2 separate regions of the Homo sapiens genome follow, and region 2 is linked to region 1. Evidence: fine-mapped expression QTL. A gene starts in region 1. The other region holds a variant in brackets. All regions are shown on one strand. Distances are from middle to middle.

Region 1 (4,377 bases):
TAGGAGGAGTCCCAAGCTGTGGCTTGGCACAGCTCCATGGCTTTGCCAAGAAGGTTGCCAGATGGCGCTGTTGCTCAGCAGCTGGAAGGGAATCTGAAGGCTTCCCCACCCCAAGTAGTACCAATGAGAGGTTCAGATAAGCTTTGGGTGCTGTTAATTCTCCACGTTATAGTGGAGATCCAGAGAACAGGATTCTAATGTGAGATGCTGAGACCTCTGTGGGGAGAGGGCAGCTATGCTGTTAGCTGCTGTTAGATTTAGGAGTTGGGTCATGGATTGTTTTTGTTTTGTTATTTGAGATGGAGTCTCAGGCTGGAGTGCAGTGGTGTGATCTCGGCTCACTGCAACCTCCACCTCCTGGGTTCAAACGCTTCTCCTACCTCAGCCTCCCCAGTAGCTGGGATTACAGGAGCCTGCTACCACACCCAGCTAATTATTATATTTTAGTGGAGACAGGTGTTTCGCCATATTGGCCAGGCTAGTCTCGAACTCCTGACCTCAAGTGATCCACCCGCCTCAACCTCCCAAAGTGCTGGGATTACAGGCATGAGCCACTGCACCCCACTGGGTGATGGGTTTTTTTTGTTTGTATTTTTTGAGATGGTGTCTCTCTCTGTCGCCCAGGCTGGAGTGCAGTGGCGTGATCCAGCTCACTGCAAGCTCTGCCTCCCGGGTTCACGCCATTCTCCTGCCTCAGTCTCCCGAGTAGCTGGGACTACAGGCGCCCGCCACCACGCCCGGCTAATTTTTTGTTTGTTTGTTTGTTTGTATTTTTAGTAGAGACGGGGTTTCACCGTGTTAGCCAGGATGGTCTCAATCTCCTGACCTCGTGATCCACCCGCCTGGACTTCCCAAAGTGCTGGGGTTAACAGGCGTGAGCCACCGCGCCCGGCCTGGGTGATGGTTTTAATGCACGGCTCTTACCTGAGAACTTAGGGTGCTAAGCTTTAATTACACTTTTCCATGGTTGCAACAAGCTGCGTTTTCTAAAGCTCTCTTCCTGGACTGGGGAGGCCTTTGGGGCAGGAGTAAAACTTCCTCATTTGCTCCAAGAGTGCTGCTTTCTGGGCTAGGAAGGCGCTGAGACTAGCAGCTGGCTGGACTTCCTGCTGTTAGTTTCATCAGCTTTCTTTTCCCCTGGGAATCCCCGGCAGGCCGCCCCCTTCCCCATCTGAGTGGCGATGCTCAGGTAGCCTCCCCCATTGGCAGGACTCTGCCGCCCCCAGGCTTGCCCACCCTGCATGCTCCAACCCCAGTGTGTTCACTGGAAAGGCCGCTGTCCTGCGCAGAGCTGGTGGCGGACGTGCCTTGCTCTACTGAAGTCCACATCCTAGGGCAGGTGATGAGCAGGAGGGTATAGACCACCAGAGACCCCTGAGGTGTCACCTAAGCAGGGACTTGATGGGAGTGAGCCTCGTGGGGACTCGGGGAGGCTCATCCAAGTGGAGCACAGTGGAGGGGTCGTGTTTGGAGCTGGGTGACCTGAGGGCCCGGGAGGTTGTGGATGGTCTGGGCCAAGTACTGTTCACTTGTTCACCTGGCAGGTCTGAGTTCATGAGTTTGAAGGTAGCCCTACGCGGAGCTAGGAAAAACTGCAAAATGGACTTGTTTCCCTCTGGGGCCTTGAGGGATCCTTGGTTGATAGGGATAGCCAGGCTGGAGCCGATTTAACCTGTGAGTCCCAAATAACCTGGATACACTCTGTCGACTCCTGGGCTCTCCCTCCGGCAGCCCAGTGATGTTTCAAAGCCCAAGGTCCCCACCTCATGTGACAGGCTGAGGATGGCAGACACTTCCCACAAAAGTGGACCTAGCCCTGAACACACACAGCCGGGGGACTTGTTGAGTTTGCACTGAGCTTCCCTCCAAATGAGGAAGGGGGCGTTTTTATGGTGTTGAGTCGCTAAGCCCCGCTCTCCCTAGCTTCCTGTGCTCTCTGGGGACAAAGGTGGGGGGGCCCCTGGAACCCTCTGTGGGCTGGCAGTGTGCTTCCTGCACCCAGCGCCAGCCCGCCCTGGGGAGGGGCTGAACCCGCCCTGCTCGTGATAAGGCACAAGCAAGGGCTGCCCTGAAGGAAGCTCCAAAGAGAAAGGAGGGCAGGAAGCCCACGGCCCACAGGGGTGTAGCCCGAGACCCACCTGCAGCCCCCAGCCCTTGCCAGGAAAGGTAAGCTCAGGCCTCACTGGGACCCTGGGCCCTTCTCTTCCTTATCCTCCTGCAGCCTCTGCCCAGCCTGCCTCTCGCCATGCGGCAGCCTGAACTTTCCACCTCCCCGGAGAGGCTTTGGCTGGTTTGTGATGTTGGCATCTGAGCTGTGGGCCAGGATCGGAACTACTTCCTGGCCTGGGTACGAAGCCATGGCCAGAGTGGGCAGCTGCCCCTGAGGGTCTGGGAGTGAGCTGTGGGCTGGCATTGAGCACGGTGGTCCTGAGTGAGCCCCTTCTTACCCGGCCTCAGTCTGCCCGCCTGTAGGATGGGAGCGGATTGGACTACATGGTCTCTGAGGGCCCTCGCGGCTCAAGCGCCAGCGCTGGAGAGAGAGTCTGAGGGTACCACGGGCGTGCTGGCCTGGGTGCTCACTCCCGCCCTCCTTCATGAGCGGCTTTCCTCTGGGTGTGTCCAGGGCATCACAGAGCTCTTCTGCCCAAACCCGGAGGCCTACCAGGGCCTGCCCACCTTGCCTCCTTCCACACTCTCTGTAGCAGCAGCCGCAGCCATGGCGGGGATGAAGACAGCCTCCGGGGACTACATCGACTCGTCATGGGAGCTGCGGGTGTTTGTGGGAGAGGAGGACCCAGAGGCCGAGTCGGTCACCCTGCGGGTCACTGGGGAGTCGCACATCGGCGGGGTGCTCCTGAAGATTGTGGAGCAGATCAGTGAGTGTCCGCTGCCCGCTTGCTGAACTCGGCACCATGGGCGGCCGCCACGGGTGTCTCTGGGCACTTCCGGGCCATCCCTGCTGCTCAGCTCCCGATAATGGTGTCACGGTGACTCAGGCATTAGCTTAATCATTTGGTTCCAAAAAAGACATTTCCCCAACTTCCTCTCCCTCCCACCCTCTTCCCTCCCTCCCTTCTGCTGCAGCTGGTCTGCTAAGGATCAGACGCAGCCACAATCCTCCATTCAGCCACCAATAGGGGCAGAAGGAGTGGTCTTGTCTGGGCCGAGGCTGAAGTCACATTGCTGAGGTCTGAGGGGGTCTAGGTGACCCAGGGGCCTGCCCCCACGCTCCCTCCCCTTGGCGGAAGCTTTGAGCAGGTTGGTGACAGGCCCAGCCTGGGTGGGAAGGCCCTGCCCCCACAGGAAGTTACAGCAGAGCAGCTGTGGTATCAGTCATGGAGGACCACGGGGCTAGTGACACGGGGGCTCCTCATCTTCCTTCCCTGCCGGGGGTGGGGGCTACCCCTTCCTGAGAGAGCAGCAGGAAGACCCCGATAGGCAGAGCCGGAAGACAGGCCCACCACAGTCCCGGCCAAGAGCCTGGGCCTGGGCTGCCAGTGGGTGGGGGGTGGGTGATGGTGGGGAGGCTTCCTCAGACCCCGCCAGGCCACCATGTGCAGCACAGGAGGAGGTCAGTCCGACTGTGGAGAGGATAGGGTCCAGAACGGCCCGGCCACAAGACTGAGGCTGTGAGGGGAGCTGCCAGGGGCAGGGCCCGGAGCAGCTGTGAGAATAGAAGTGAGGAACAGAGAGAGGGTGGTGAAGACCTGGGTGGCCCCAGGGCACGGCATGAGGGTAACGCAGGAGGCCTTAACCTGGAGTCAGACAGACCCCGCTGCTCTACCCGCTGCTGGGCACCCCAGGGCAAGTTCCTTTAGCTCTGTGTTCCCTGTGGTGGGGATACTGTCACTCCTAAGCACATCAGCTCTGTCTACTGATGCTCAGCCTGGCCGCCCCGGGCCAGTCCCTGGCCTCCTGGAGCAGCAGCGGGTGAGACTGACCCATGGGGGCTGCGTGCCGGCTGCCGCACAGAGGGCGCTATCATGGGGGCCTGGAGCCAGAGGAGGGGGCTGCCCCGAGCCCAGGATGGGGATAACCCCAGGAGAAGTCCTGAGAGGTGGCCTCAGCAGGGAGGAGCAAGGTGGTGGCGCTGGGACTCGGAGGGCTGTGAATTAGGGCTCTCGGCTGGTGAGGATGCTGGGAGCGTGACCAGAAATGAGGCTGGCTGGTGCCTGGCCAGCTCTGCATGGCCCCGAAGGCCTCCAGAAGGGGTCTAGACTTTCTTCTGGAGGGGAAGGTGGCCACCGAAGGGTTCTCAGCAGGAGGCTGTCCTGCTAAGGTCAGCAGCAAGGCGAAAGGCTGGTGGCGGCAGGCCCCTGAGGAGGCTGTGGTCCTGGTTAGAGACACCAGGGCCTCCTAAGGCCGGGCAGGGAGGAT
Region 2 (4,377 bases), 77 kb before region 1:
CAAAATTTCCATGAGAACAATAGCAGTCTCTGCTAAATTTAACATAAAACAAGAACTCATTACTTCTGCCTGAGATCTGATTTCATGTCTGGATACAGTTAACGGGTTTTTCCTTATATTCCAAAGAAGCAAAGTTAATTCTCAGTGGCCGGTGGCCCTGAGTGGGGTGACGTGGGCCCCACAGGTGCTCTCTGCCCCACCCTCCTCCTCCATCCTCACCTCCTGTCCTGCCAGGGCAGGAGCAGCCCAAGAGAGACCACTCTAAGGTGTGGCACACAGTGTGACCACCCAGGAAAGGACCCAGGCTGTTCTTCCAACTTCTCCCTGAGACCCAGCGCACAGTGGGTGCCCAGGAGGGGTGCCCACTCCCTCACCTGAGACCCATTCTCTGGGGCTGTCGAGGGCTCTTTCTGGAACACAGTCAGCCAGCCAGCCAGCCAGGAGATATTGACTGAGGGCCTGCTATGCTCTGGGGCTGGTGTATTCCTGCCTCATGGAGGAGTGAGGAATCTACGTGGCTGAGTCAGGGCCTAGCCTGGGTGGGGCTGGGGAGGCTCTGTGGGGAACCAGATTTCCACAGAGGACGCTTCCACGGATAAGGAGGACTAGGAGGCAATGGGGAAGGCCTGGCACGCCGCCCGCCTGAGGTAGACAGGAGGGCAGGTCCACTTCTGCGCCCCACTCAGGAAGGCCCTGTGTCCCCCCATCTCCCCGTTGCCCCCCTCAGACTCCAGCCTCAGTGCAGCCCCACCCTCTGCCCTCCACGCCTGACACCCCCCAGGCCCAGTGTGGCTTAGACTTCAGGTCTATGCTGCACTGGTTTCCCACGCCTCTGCTGGCCTTTCTCACCTGCACAGGTGACCCCTTCCCACGCCTCGCTTGGCTGAGCCCAGACTGGCAGCTCTTGCCCTCCACACCTCCAGATCCCCAGAGGGCACTTGTCTGGCACCAGGAGGCCCCGTAAACAGGAATGAAGAGTGAGTCGATAAACAGTAAATCAATCAGCCAATCACTCCATGGATCCATGTGAGTACAAGGAGGATGATTCTCCAAGCACAACAGCCCTTGCCAACCCCAGTGAACCCACCCTTCCCCAGGAAGTCCTGCTCCCGGCTTTACCTCACCCTCCCCACGTGTGGCAGCGCCACAAATCTGGGGACACCTGTGGAGCCCTCGAAGCTAGGGAAGAAGGGCTGTGTTCTCAAACTGTGTTCCTCAGCCCCTGGAGCTAACACAGGTGTTGCCCAGAAAGGGTTCCCGGTCACAGGCCTTTGGGAACCACTGGATTAACACCACTGCTCTCCTGGGGCAGGGCCTTGGAGTCCCTGGGTATTGGGTTAGACCCATGGGCTCCGCCAGTTACCACATGTGCTACTCATCCTCTCTGTGCCTCAGTTTCCACCTCCATGCGTACATGATAACAGCTCCATCCCCGACTGCTGTTGGGAGGGTGAGGTGGGACGACACAGGTAATGCCACTGGGAGTGCCCAGCTCAGAAACCACCCGCACCAACCCTACGGCTGTGACGGAGCCTCTGTGAGAGGGCGTGGGAGGCCGGGTTGCCTACAGTTTGTCTGGGGAGTGTAGGCCTCCCCCACCCCCAGCACAGCCTCCTGGGGGGTTTCTCCCGCATTCCTGGCCCCCAGGGATGGAGCCAGGTGCTGAGCTGGTTGGCACTTCTTGCAGGGAGGCCCAGGTTCTTGGCAGGACCTTTGGACCCAGGCAGCAAAGTGCCCCCAGGTCCAGCACAGAGAGGCAACCGTACAGGGTGGGGCCTGTTCCCCAAACCACCCCCACAACAATCCCAGGTCCACGGCCTGCTGAAGAGGATGACAGGCTGGCTGCAGCCTTAGGCTTCAGGATTGGGGGTGGGTGTGGGGGACATCTCAGGTTTTAATACGCGCCCCAGGG[G/A]AGTTGGAGGCTCAGCCAGGTTTGGGCCGCACAGGAGGGAATTGCCAGGACCTGCATTTCAGGAATGAAAGGAAAACCCTCCAAACATAACCTGTTCTGAAGAGGACCGGGTGGTTGGGGGGCCGTGAGCCTCCCGTTCTTACAGGAAAGCAAGCAGGACTGGCCAGTGCCTCAAAGGCACTGCAGGGGACCTGCTGGCCCCAAAGAGCCCTGACACCATGTCTTCAGCTGGATGCCAGGAGATGGGGTGGTCCCCCGAGAAACCTACCCCACACCACTGCTGCAGCCCCCCACCGTGCCACCCTCCAGCCAAGCCACTTTGGGCCCTTTCCTTCCCCACAAATCTCTCAGGACTTGCATTATCACTGAGATTAGGGGCACGTGTGGGTAAGACCCCCGAATGGCTGCCCTGCGGCCAAGAGGCACCTTAAGTCCCGGGGCTCCGGCTTTGTGTATCTGACTCCGTCTGTTTTGTCAGACTCAGGACTAAAAAGCTCCTGCTCAAATGAGAGAGAGAGAGTGGGTGATACCTACCCCTCCATGGCTGCTTTCCTGTACCTGGAAACTGCCCTTACCTGGCTACCACTGGGTTCTGGAAGCTTCCCTTCTCCTGCCCCTACTTCCCAGGAGGGGTCTCTGGCCTCACCGAGCAACCTGAAGAAGAGGCGTCGGAACCTGGGAGGGGTCTAACACCCCAGGCCACACCCCCACACCCAAGTTCTGTGGCTGAGTCTTATCACCCAGCCTAGGAGGGTCCCGGACGCATGGGAGGGCACCCAGCTGGCCCTGAAATTCTGCCTCCGTGGGTCTGACATTGGCTCATCCACTTTCAGGCACCCCAAATAAGGCATGCTTCCAGGACCCCCCCACACATGCCGCTGCCTCCCCGCCGCCGCACCCACGTCACCTTCCAGTGCTGACACTGCCACCTCCCCACCCGCCACCCTGTCCAGCACCTCCAGAGGACCTTCTCCTCCTGCGGCAAAGTAAACAGGCTCTCTGGAGTGCTAACTGACAGCACAAATGAAATCCTGCACTCCCTCCCTCTAAGATTTACAGGGGAAGTGAAATCTTATTTGCAATGCTGCCAAGCCTGGGACGAGATGAAATTATGCCTCAAGAAGAGAACTGGCCGGCCCGGCGAGGAAGCACTGCATCGGAGATGGGCTTATTAAAACCACAGTGGCCACATTTCAACCTGTTTCAGGTGTTAAGTAATTTACTGCCACCCAGAATTCAGTGGCAGGTTTTTATCATTTTTATTCTTGTGATGCAGGCGAGTGCCCCAGGAGGTCCCTGTGCAGGGAGCTGCGGGTCTAAATGCTCCCTGTCACCCCCGCCCCAGGCACTGCAGAGGGAAATGGGGGCCAGCTGCCTGAAGCGGGTGAGGACACCCTGACTCTCTCCAGGGTTACACCCAGCTTGGCCATAGCTCAGAGTGACGGGGAGGGCAGGCTTTAAGACCCTCACCCCACCCACGTGTGGGGGCTCCATGATCCCTCAAAGACCCTCGGGACGTTTTCTTTTTTTTGATGGAGTCTCGCTCTGTCACCCAGGCTGGTGTACAGTGAGGTGATCTCGGCAGCTTCCGCCTCCCAGGTTCAAGCGATTCTCCTGCCTCAGCCTCCCAAGTAGCTGCGTGTACAGGCGTGTGCTACCACGCCCAGCTAATTTTTGTATTTTTACTAGAGATGGGGTTTCTCCATGTTGGCCAGGCTGGTCTTGAACTCCCAACTTCAATGATCCACCCGCATCGGCCTCCCAAAGTGCTGGGATTACAGGAGTGAGCCACCGCGCCCAGCCCCTCAGGATGTTTTCTGAAGGCAGCAGGAATGTAAGCTCTCTGGGAGCAGAGACTACCCTGTTTCAGGCTGTGACTACCAACCAAGCCTTTATTGAGCACCTACTGCATGCCAGGCCCTGTTCAGATGGGGAACATGCAGCAAATGGGACCGAGAGCCCCCTGCCCTGTGGAGCTCACGTGCTGCCTGCCGGTAAGTGTTGAGTAAATATTTGTGGTTGGTTGATGAAAATCTCCTACAGGCAAACAGGCCCTTGAAAGAAAAGAAGCTGAGGAGGGGGGCAGGGGGAACCGGAGGGAAGTGAGTGGCGGGAGGGAGGGGCGCACTTGACTGAGCATCTGCTACATGCCAGTCATCACAGTGACTGCTGGCAGCCCTGGAAGTGGGGCCTCCCCATGCCGGAGCTGCTGGGGCCAGGTCTCTGCACCTTCCCCTGCTCTGGAGAACTATGCAGAAATGGCTGATACTCCGTCTGAACTCATGAGGAACACAGTCTCCTATTCATGGGGAGCTGGGGACAAGGGGACCTACAGTCTGGGATGTGGTTAGGAACAGCCCCACGTCCTCCAAGCTCTCGAGCCCTTTCTCAGTGGTCCCGGGAGGAGAGCTGTTTGATGCCTGCTGGCTTTGGGGGGATTAAGCCTATTATGGAGGCTCCCGGGG

The links. PIP is the estimated chance that this variant, and not a neighbour inherited with it, causes the effect. A credible set is the group of variants that fine-mapping cannot tell apart.
Region 2: its variant is the best candidate, but not a certain one, in a credible set for the expression of FERMT3 in whole blood (TOPMed, PIP 0.51).

What each region holds. Positions count from the first base shown.
Region 1 is chr11:64,204,649-64,209,025 of GRCh38, forward strand. It overlaps FERMT3 (FERM domain containing kindlin 3), which reads left to right and starts at 2,073. Exons shown (of 15, transcript NM_031471.6): 1 at 2,073-2,166; 2 at 2,703-2,876. The coding sequence starts at 2,717. RefSeq lists enhancers at 682-1,244, 1,082-1,341, 1,245-1,807, 2,242-2,321, 2,642-2,721 and 2 more.
Region 2 is chr11:64,127,911-64,132,287 of GRCh38, forward strand. All of the region lies in intron 3 of MACROD1 (mono-ADP ribosylhydrolase 1), which reads right to left. Among named protein-coding and RNA genes, the nearest start is that of MACROD1, 36 kb to the right of the region's middle. RefSeq lists an enhancer at 1,567-2,160. The variant G/A (reference allele first, on the strand shown) is at 1,913.